Regions from separate parts of the Homo sapiens genome. Here region 2 is linked to region 1. The links come from fine-mapping of genetic effects on gene expression. A gene starts in region 1. The other region holds a variant in brackets. All regions are shown on one strand. Distances are from middle to middle.

Region 1 (5,509 bases):
CAGGAGGACCCAGTCTGTGCTGAAGCAGACCTGCAGCAATCCTGGCCCAACCAGCCAGGAAGGATGGTTCAGTCTCTTTGCGGGACTGCTGGCCCAGTTCCTACTCCTCCTAGAACCAAGTGGCTAGCCAGACAGGCAAGAAGGGCAGGGCCCAGGTTGGAGGGTGTCCTGGGAACTATAGGGAGACTGGGGAGAATTAGGGTGACAACCCATCATTAAACCCAGAACTGGCTGACACCACTTGACCCAGCAGTTTGTGGCTCCTGCCTCAGGTGCTGAAGATCCCAAATCAAAGTCCCAAGGACACCCTGGTAACAGCCTTGCAATTAGCCCAGAAAGGAACAAAAGCTGCTGCCATCCGACTGGGGGCCAAAGTGGGGCAAAAACAGTCTAGGCAAGCAAAGTCAAGTCCAGCCCTGGTGGTGCCAGGCCTCCTCAGCTTCCCACGGTCAGCCCACAGTTCCATGACTCCTGACCTCTTGGCTCCCAGGAGGGAAATGGGGAAGAAGGGGTGACCAGGCCTCCGAGAAAGATACCTCCACTGTTCCATTCCCCGGGGACACCATGGAAACTCAGTCTGTCCCAAAGGGGATTGACCCATCCCCCGGGGTGAGCAGAAGGGAAGGCCTGGACGGAGGAGAACGCCCGCCAGGGAATCCAGAACGAGGAGCTCCTTCAGTCACCCTCCTGGAAGGCCACTTGAGTGACTATGGGTTTGGGCTGAGGGTCAGACAATCCCAGTTCAGCCACTGTCTGCTCATGTGATCTGAGACAAGCCACACCACCCCGAGCCTCAGCTTCCTCGTCTGGACCCCAGAGAAGGCCTAAGTTGAACTGGTGGTGGTGAGCCATCAATGAGCTCATCCGACCAGCGAGCTCGGCACAGGGCCTGGCCCAGGACGAGTGTCCCAGAGGTAGATCCCTGGGCCAGGGTGTGAGTGCCTGATTTGATCCCCTTAACTCTTCTCTGTGCCCTGCCTTCACCCCGTCGGGAGCCTCCAAACCACCATCAACAGAGTTTTACATGCTCATTCCCTCTAATTCTTCACCCCCAGGGAGATGGCACACAGAACTCAGGCTCAAGGAGTTGGTGCCTGGGAGGCCATGGTACTAATATATACGATGGTTGCTGTGAGGTCCCATCCACTAGGCTTGAACCACCAGCTTCTGGCCACAAAAGGTAGAGAAAGAATGCAGGATCCTAAAATACCCAGGTAACGTCTGCTGGGCTGCCTCCCTGTAGATATATAAGGTGGGGGTGGGCAAGGGCCACCTTGTGATAAACAAGATGCCTAAGCTAGGTGTTCCAGACTGTCTCCAGCTGCCCACACAAACACCCACTGGCCAGTGCCTTTGAACAGTTGGCAGAGGCTTGCCCAAGGGGTAGGGTCAGGACTCTAGAGGCTTCAGGGATGAGGTGTGAGAAAGACGGAACCCCTTAACACTTGAGTTGGGGGCGGTGGGGGGCGCATCTTAGTATATACCTTCTGGTCACACCAGCTTTTCCTGACCTGCCCCCACATCCCCCCTAGCCTAGCCCAAAAGGCTCTGCTCTCTCGACTCCCAAAACTCCTACAGCAGTCCCTCACCTTACCTGATCGCCCCCACATCTAGCCTCCCCCTCCCCACATCTGAGTCCTGACCTCATGTGACCCCCGGAAAACATCTCTGGGATCTCCTATCCGCCCCCACACGAAGTAACTCCGCCCACACCCGCCGTGCCCCACTTCCTGGGCTTCTCCTCAGCCGCCCCCAGGCCTGTAACTTGACCCACCCACCTCCTCCAGCGCCCAGGCGGTACCTGCAGGCCCGGCCCCTCCCCGCCCCCCTCCGGCCGCGCCGCTCTCCTCTCCTCCCCCACTCGGCCTGGCCGGAGCCCGACTCCTCCTCCCCCTCCCCCTCCCCCTCCGGCATCCACGAGAACCTCCTCACTTTTCCGCCTCGGACCCTCCAACTTCCCCGGATCCCCGGTACCTGCCCCGGCCCGACCTGGCCCCCTCCCTCGCTGGGAGACGGGGGAGCGGTCCAGGTACGATCCTGCCGCCCCCAAGCCCTGAAGCTCGGGCTGGACGCTCAAGGCCGCCCGCGGTAGCTGGGCCTCCACACACTCGCCTGCCCGGGCACAGTGCAGGCTGCGGGCCCGGCTCCTCCTCGGTCCGAGAAAGCACCCAGGCCCTCCCCACTCAGCCCTCGGGCCGCCCCGGCTGGAGGAGGCCGGAACCGGGCCTGAGGCGGGCCGCCTCACCTGCGCCGTGGCCGCGCTCCGGGGGGTCCCGGCGGGCTCCGCAGCGGCGGCTGGGGCCGGGCCTGGGCCCGGGGCGCGCCCCGCTGCGCCGGGGCCTCGGCCTCCGCCTCCGCGGCCTCCGCGGCCTCCGCCTCAGCAGCAGCGGCAGCCGCGGCGGCCATTCATTGTGGGCCAGGCCGCCCCAGCCGAGCGCCGAGCGAGCGCAAGCCGCGCTGCCGCCGCAGCCAGGCCAGGGAGGAGCGGCCCCGGCCCCGCCCGCGCACCGCCCTCGGGCCCCGCCCTCCAGGCGAGGCCAGCCGAGCTCCGAGCGCGCCCCTTCTAACCGGCTCCGTCTCCTCTCTATGCCCCTGGGGGATCCTCGCCAGTACGTCGGCTCAGCTCGATGGTTCGAATCCTGGCCCCGCCACCTTCTAGTCCCGCGACCTTGGGCAAGTCGCTCTACCTTTCCGAACTTTAGTTTCCTGTAAAACAAAAACAATAATGACTGCTGTTTATTGTGGCAGGCACTGCGTTACATTCTTTATGGGAATTAGCTCGTTTAAACTACACAGTAACATTTTTTAGTGAGAACTGCTACAGACACACTATAGAAAATAAAGGCAGCTGGGCGCGGTGTCTCACGCCTGTAATCCCAGCACTTTGGGAGACCGAGGTGGGTGGATCGCCTGAGGTCAGGAGTTCGAAACCAGCCTGGCCAATATGGTGAAACTCTGTCTCTACTAAAAATACAAAAATTAGCCGGGCGTGATGGCATGCGCTTGTAATCCCAGCTACTCGGGAGACTGAGGCAGAAGAATCGCTTGCACCCGGGAGGCGGTGGTTGCAGTGAGCCGAGATCATGCCACTGCACTCCAGCCTGGGCGAGACTCCGTCTCAAAAAAAAAAAAAAAAGAAAGAAAGAAAGAAAAGGAGGCACAGAGAAATGAAGAAAGCTGGTCAAGATCATCACACAGCAAGGAAGTGATGGTAGGTGCCAGGATTTAAACACAGGCTCAAAAGCGACAATAAGACCTAAGACTTTTATGATGCTTACCGGATGCTAGGTTCTGTTAGCATTTTACCTGCACTAACTCGTTTACTTCTCACTACAACCCAGTAACAAATGGTAAAAAAAAGTTCTGCCCATTTTGCAAAAGCGGTAACTTAAGTTCAGAGTTAACAAGTCGCAGGGCGAGCTGAGACTGGAACCCAGGTAGCCGGGACCACTTCGCTGTCCTGCCTTCATACACTGGTTAGAACTTTACCGAGCGCTTACAATGTTAGAGTGGTTCTTTGCACACTTTCCAGGAATCTGTCATTTAATCTTTGCTCTATCTGAGAAACCACGATTCTCATTTAATAGGTAAGAAAAGTGAAGCCGCGGGAGTAACCTGCCCAGAGCATGTGATGGGACTGAGATTCAAACCCGGTAAATCCAACTCCAGAGCCTGAGTCATTCCTGCAGGGTGCTCTGAAATAATGTGTATATAGCACCCAGAACACAGAAGAGGACCAATAAGTGTTGGGTTTCTCCGCTTACCGCCCCTTTTCTGAGCCACAACTTCCTCATCTGTGAAATGGGACTAGGGACGTGTCCTCTCCCAGGGGATCCACTGTGATTAACACCCCCGGAACAGCACGATCAGCGCGCTTCCTTTATGGCTTTCATTTTGATCCCGGCCGCCCACCGTACGTTTCCTCATTGACTGGCCAACCACTATCATGTGATTCGCCCACCCACTGTGCCAACATGGCGGCGCCCAGGTCCTAATTCGGGAAACGTGCACCTTGACTAATTCGGTTTTCTGTGGCTACGAGAGCAGGTGAGGACGGGCTAGGCAGCGCGGGGAGGGATTCGGACTCGGGGCGGGCCTGCACGAGGGCATCGGCTCCACAGGGACCAGTCATCCCCAAAACGAGGGGATATCAGCTTACCGAGGCCGCAGGTTTTCCTAGTCCCTACCTCATAGATATGTAGGACATCCCCGGGCCCGGAATGCGGCTCTCTGACCCTCTCTGTGCCCTCCCCCGCCCCCCGAACCAGGCTTGGCGGGCGGAGGCGCCAGCGGATGTCTCATGCAAGGATCGTCTCTGTGGCTAAGCCTCACTTTCCGCTCCGCCCGGGTGCTCTCTAGAGCCCGGTTTTTCGAGTGGCAGTCTCCAGGGCTGCCGAATACAGCAGCGATGGAGAACGGCACCGGGCCCTACGGAGAAGAACGTCCACGTGAAGTCCAGGAGACGACAGTCACCGAGGGGGCTGCCAAAATCGCCTTTCCCAGTGCCAACGAGGTCTTTTATAACCCGGTGCAGGAATTCAATCGGGACCTGACGTGAGCAGGGGTCAGACGTTAGCCTGGCATCGGCTAGTGGGTCAGTGTGGATGGCGGGGGCGGGGTATGAGCTAGTCCTCTGTCTCCCACCAGATGTGCTGTGATCACCGAGTTTGCTCGCATTCAGCTTGGGGCCAAAGGAATCCAGAGTGAGTGGAGGTCCAGGCTTCTGGTGGGCGGGGGTCACACAAGTTTATCTCCCTGCCTGGGCTCTTCTGCCGCCCAAATCCAGAGGGGCTTCAGCCACATAGCAGGCCCTGGGTTCTGCTCCTTCAGCCTTTCCGCAGGGATTTCAGGGACGATATTTTGGAGATTAAGGGGAGGTTTCTCAGAGGGGACCTTGTTATTCTCTGACTTGTGCCTCTGGGTGGCTGCAGTCAAGGTTCCAGGAGAGAAGGACACGCAAAAAGTGGTCGTGGACTTGTCAGAGCAAGAGGAGGAAAAGGTTGAACTGAAAGAGAGTGAAAACCTGGCCTCAGGAGACCAACCTCGCACAGCGGCCGTGGGGGAGATCTGTGAGGTGGGGCCTGAGCATAGGAGCTGGCAGCCCTGGAATTTAGCGGGAGACAGAGGGCTCCTGGAGGGGGAGAGCTATAGGAGGTGGGTGGTGGGGGCTCCTTGGGGCCCAGAAGAGGATGGAGGTGGAGATGTGAGGGAGGTTTTCTGCTTACTCCAACAGGAAGGCCTGCATGTGCTGGAAGGCCTGGCAGCTTCAGGCCTACGTTCCATTCGATTTGCCCTAGAGGTGCCTGGGCTCAGATCTGTGGTTGCAAACGATGCCTCCACCCGGGCTGTGGATCTCATACGCCGGAATGTCCAGCTCAATGACGTGGCCCACCTGGTACAGCCGAGCCAAGCAGATGCCCGGTAGGTTCTGGGCATCACAGCCTAGCTCTGGGACAAGCCTGCCTGGGGTCAAATTCTGGCTCTGTCACATTCTCACTCTGTGACCTTG
Region 2 (5,000 bases), 22 kb before region 1:
ACAGGCACCCGCCACCACACCCAGATAATTTTTGTATTTTTAATAGAGACGTGGTTTTGCCATGTTGGCCAGGCTGGTCTTGAACTCCTGATCTCAGGTGATCCACCTGCCTCGGCCTCCCAAAATGCTGGGATTACAGGCATGAGCCACCGTGCCCAGCCCAGTTACTTTAATCTTGTGTTATCTTTGAGTCTATGGGGACCCACGGTGCATCCATGGTTTTTCCTACTTGATAGAACCATTTGTCCTTTCATATTCTTGGGACCCTCTTGTTCACCCAGATATTTCCAATATCGGTTAAATTTTGTGATCTCGTTTTTTTTTTTTTTTTTTTGAGACTAAGTTTTGCTCGTCACCTAGGCTGGAGTGCAATGGTGCGATCTTGGCTCACTGCAACCTCCGCCTTCCAGGTTCAAGCAATTCTCCTGCCTCAGCCTCCTGGGTAGCTGAGATTACAGGCGCACTCCACCACGCCCAGCTAACTTTTCTATTTTTAGTAAAGATGGGGTTTTGCCATGTTGACCAGGCTGGTCTCGAACTCCTGACCTCAGGTGATCCATCTGCCTCAGCCTCCCGAAGTGCTGGGATTACAGGCATGAGCCACTGCGCCCTGCCGATCTCTTTTATGTTCTTTTAATGCATGAATGCTCTTCTGAATGCGGCGTGGAGTGTGTGTGTATGGGATGTGTTTCTGGGGCTTGGCATATCAGCCACGGCACAGGCGGGCACCGAGTGAGCCAGTGTTGCTGTAAAATTGACAGAGCCACAGCTCCCTTTTTTTTTTTTATTGAGATGGGATCTGACTCTTGCCCATGCTGGAGTGCAGTGGTGCCATCATAGCTCACTGCAGCCTTGACCTTCCCAGTTGAAGTGATTCTCCTGCCTCAGCCTCCAGAGTAGCTGGGAGTACAGGTGCATGCCACCACACCCAGCTAATTAAAAGTATTTTTTCAGGCTGGGTGTGGTGGTGGCTCATGCCTGTAATCCCAGCACTTTGGGAGACCAGCCTGACCAACATGGAGAAACCCCATCTCTACTAAAAATATAAAATTAGCTGAACCTGGTGGTGCATGCCTGTAATCCCAGCTACACAGGAGGCTGAGGCAGGACAATCATTTGAACCTGGGAGGCGGTGGTTGCAGTGAGCCGAGATCGCGCCATGACACTACAGCCTGGCAACAAGAGCGAAACTCCGACTCAAAAAAAAAAAAGAAAAGAAAATGCTGGGCGCGGTGGCTCACACCTGTAATCCCAGCACTTGGGGAGGCCAAGGCGGGTGGATCACCTGAGGTCAGGAGTTCGAGCCCAGCCTGACCAACATGGTGAAACCCTGTCTCTACTAAAAATACAAAAATTAGCCGGGCATGGTGGTGGGTGCCTGCAATCCCCACTATTTGGGGGGGCTAAGGCAGAATGGCTTGAACCCAGGAAGCAGAGGTTGCAGTGAGCCGAGATCGCGCCACTCTAGCCTGGGCGACAGAGTGAAATTCCATCTCAAAAAAAAAAAAAGAAAAAAAAATTGTGTGTGTGTGTGTGTGTGTAGGACCAGCTCATATGTTGCGTTATCTGTATCTGTTGGGGTAACTTGCATGCGTGTTAGAATCGGAGGCTGTCAGTTTGCAGTCAGCAACCTGGGTCTGCTGGGCACAATGCAGGTGTGTGTTCCTCCCTGGGCCCCCAAGTAACGAGCATGCGGCAAGGCTGTTACAAAGGCGTTTAGTTTATTCTCATCAGTATCACTGATATTCTCATGGTTCACATTTGCCAACGCCGCTCCTCTCCTTACAGTAGTTAAATGTGCAATCTCACTTGGGGGCCCAGGGAGGGGTGGGGGCTCGGCCCAGGGTGGGGAGGGCGTTGGCACTTCACGTGGACAGGGTGGGCAGCCTGTCCTGCGTGAAAGAGGTGTGGGTTGAGTGGGCGGCCAGGGAAGGGGAGTTGGCAGGGGAGGGCCCCACAGTCTTTTTTCTCTGGTGGTTGGTGATTCTCCATTCAGATTCCTTCCTGGCTGCCCAGGGTGGGGGAACCATGCAGCTCAGGGCAGGGGAGGAAGAGAAGGAAAAAGCAGCAGGCCGCCCAGGGGTAGGGGTGGAGGGTGAATGGCAGGGCAAGGGGGGTACAGGGGTGGCTCCTGGGGTAAGGCACAACCCTGTCTTTGGCTCTCCTGGTGAGGAGTTTCCTCCCCTGCACCCCCTGCCCGACCCTTCTCCCCACCCCCCCACCCCCCGGACCCACACACAGTCCTGGGAGCCAGGGGGCACCTCCTGGGGTCCCTGAAACAAGTGGGCTCTGCCACCCAAGCCAATGCCACAGGGGCTCGAGGAGGGACACCCGAGGAAAAGGCAGAGAGGGGCAGGCAGGGGCCTACCCAGGACAAGGGGGTGGGGGTGAGAAGACCCCAGGCCCAGGAGCTGGCCCCCCCACCCCAACTAAGGCCTGGAAGTGGGGGAGCACCTTCCTTTCAGGGGTCTGGCTGGAGCCCCGGTCTGCCCCTCGGCCTC[C/T]GTCAGGCCCAGCCGCTTGCCAAGTGACCAGGGCATTGTGCTTTGGGGTAAACGCTGGGGTGGGGTGGCAGGCCAGGAGGCGGGGGGAGAGGAGGGGTGACTAAGGTGCTTGTGCTTTAGCTGGGGGTGTCAATATCCCCCACTCAGGCCGGCTGGGGGCTAAGGTTTCAGGCCCCGGCCAGGAAGACAGTGCCAAGACCCCAGCCAGACCCTGGCACTCATGACTGACCCCCGCAACAAGCAGATGTTAAGAGGGACCCCCAGTGGGCCGGCGGGGCTGCTGGTCCCATCGGGGGGATGGTCTCCAAATCAGATTACAAGGGTCCAGTAGGGGCTGGCCCCCACCCCATCTCCTAAAATCCCCCTGCCCCTGGAGAGACCCCTGGGAGCAGTGGGTAGGTGGGGGTTGGGGAGGCAGATGAGAGGCAGGGAGGACGAGGGCCAGAAACACAAACAAGGATGTGGATGTGGATGGTGAAATGACACCCTGCATAGGGGGATGGGGAGTTAAAAAAGAAAAAAAACTGCCTTCACATGAAAATCTAAAACAACAACAAAAAACCACCCACTCTGGGCGAGAACAAAAAGAGAGGAATGGTAAAAGAGAAAATTCTGCAAACAACTGCTAACAATGGAAGTGGACCCGGCCCTGCCCTGCCCTGCCCAGCCCCCAGGAGCTGGGCCCAGCCAACCAGCCAAGGCCTGGGACACCCTTAAACTATAGCCCTGTTGGGGAAGGTGAACAGGGGAGGGGGACCCACAGGACCCACAGGAGCCTAGGCAGCAGCTGGGACTGGAGTCCTACCATGGAAACACACACACACACTCCACACATACACACCCACACACACACATTCAGCCTGCCCCCCAGCCCCCCAACACCGCCCTGCCTTCCAAGGCCCCCCACCCCTGGGGACCGAGGGGGACAATAGACACAGCCCCATTGGTTTGAAAAATAAAAGGAATCTTATACTTCAATATTTCATTCGCTAAAAAAAGGTTTTAAAAATTATGTACAGGGGGGTGGGGGCCAGGAGCCCTGCTGTGGGGTGGGGTGGGTGTGGGGAGATGGAGGGAGGGGCAACAGCCCCCCAGTCTGCTCCCCTGGGTTCCAACCCAGGTCCTACTGCCTCTTGTATCTTCATTTGTTTGAAAGCAAAACTTCTGCACACACACACGCACACACTCTGCCAGCCCTGGAAACCTCTCATTCTATCCTCCGAGACCCTCGGTCTGCCCCCAGGAGACCCCCCCTCCTTTAGGACCTGCCTCTCTGAGGCCCCAGAGGACCAAAGGGAGCAACAGAGGCGGAAGAGGAGAAAGGGCACCAGGCACGCCACTGCCGGCCACCTGAGGTCGGTTGTGCAATTTCTCGGAGCCTGTTTCCCCAGCTATAAAATGGGTAGTCCCCACGGCCTCGCCTACCCCAGCCCCCAGGCGCAGGGATAGACGAGGGTGACAGGAAGGCGCTTTTGGAGACGTGGAAGCACTGGGAGGTGGTGGGAGGGGTCCTGAGAACCCCTGGGGCCCCCCTCAAGTCCCAAGGGGCTGCAGTGAGGGGCGGAGGCTGAAGGCTTCCGCGAGGTGGCCTAGGGCCTGGGGAGGGGCCTTCCCAAGACCCCCAGGCCAGCCCCCTCCCCTGGTGGGCCTGGTGAGTGTGGAGATGACGGCTAGGGGTTAGGTTGGGGAGCCAGAACTCCCCCACTGCACGAGTGTGTGTTAAAGAAGGCAACACGGACCTCACGCCACCTGCCCTGCGGTCCTCTCCCGGCCCAGCTCTCGGTGGGGAAAGGGGGTAGGACAGGAGGGGCAGAGGGCCGGGAACATGCAGCACCCACCGCGGGTCCTGGGGAGGGACAGACAGTAGCTCATGACCAAGATGGCAGGTGTGTGTGTGTGTTGGGAGGGGAAGTGTGTGGCCCCGCGGGAGGCTGGGCGGGTTACTGCAGGGCTTCAGCCGAGGGACCCGCCTCGCCCTCGTGGCTGGCGGTCTCGAAGCCATGCTCCACACCCATCATGTCCGGCTCGATCTTGCCCGTTTCACTGATGAAGGTGGTGTAGGCGTCATCCTCAGCCTTGAGCACCTTGACCTTGGGCATCCAGCTCTTGCGCACGACGCGGCGGGCGTTGGTGCACATGTCGGCCGCGATGGCATTCATCTCGCTCTCCTTGAAGTTGGGGGCGAAGTTCTGGCAGTAGTCTGTGGGGCAGGGTGGGTGCGGCCTTGGCACGGGGGCCAGGTGACTCCCACAAGGCCTACTCACCAGCTCCCCTACAGCATCTGCGACTCCCTCTCAAAGGGGAAACGAGTGAGGCCACGCGGCCAGGACACCACACTACGTGCACCCAACCCTACACCGGACTGAGTTCAGCCATGTGTGGGGATGTGTTGGTTTTGATGGGATGGCCCCGTGTTCTTGAAAAATTCGGATCATTTGCCAGAATTTAGTAACGGGGAGTGGTCACTTGAAAATCTAGATGCCCCCCATGACGAGTGGC

Evidence for each region. PIP is the estimated chance that this variant, and not a neighbour inherited with it, causes the effect.
Region 2: its variant is the best candidate, but not a certain one, in a credible set for the expression of NACC1 in fibroblasts (GTEx, PIP 0.69).

What each region holds. Positions count from the first base shown.
Region 1 is chr19:13,115,191-13,120,699 of GRCh38, reverse strand. NACC1 (nucleus accumbens associated 1) reads right to left here and starts at 2,436. Exons shown (of 6, transcript NM_052876.4): 1 at 2,246-2,436. It overlaps TRMT1 (tRNA methyltransferase 1), which reads left to right and starts at 3,960. Exons shown (of 17, transcript NM_001136035.4): 1 at 3,960-4,047; 2 at 4,269-4,554; 3 at 4,648-4,703; 4 at 4,932-5,074; 5 at 5,234-5,421. The coding sequence starts at 4,301. RefSeq lists enhancers at 389-889, 890-1,391, 2,667-2,816, 3,777-3,966 and silencers at 1,827-1,876, 2,427-2,626.
Region 2 is chr19:13,137,848-13,142,847 of GRCh38, reverse strand. NACC1 (nucleus accumbens associated 1) reads right to left here. Exons shown (of 6, transcript NM_052876.4): 6 at 1,701-4,701. The coding sequence ends at 4,442. Among named protein-coding and RNA genes, the nearest start is that of STX10, 10 kb to the left of the region's middle. RefSeq lists an enhancer at 4,970-5,000. The variant C/T (reference allele first, on the strand shown) is at 2,502.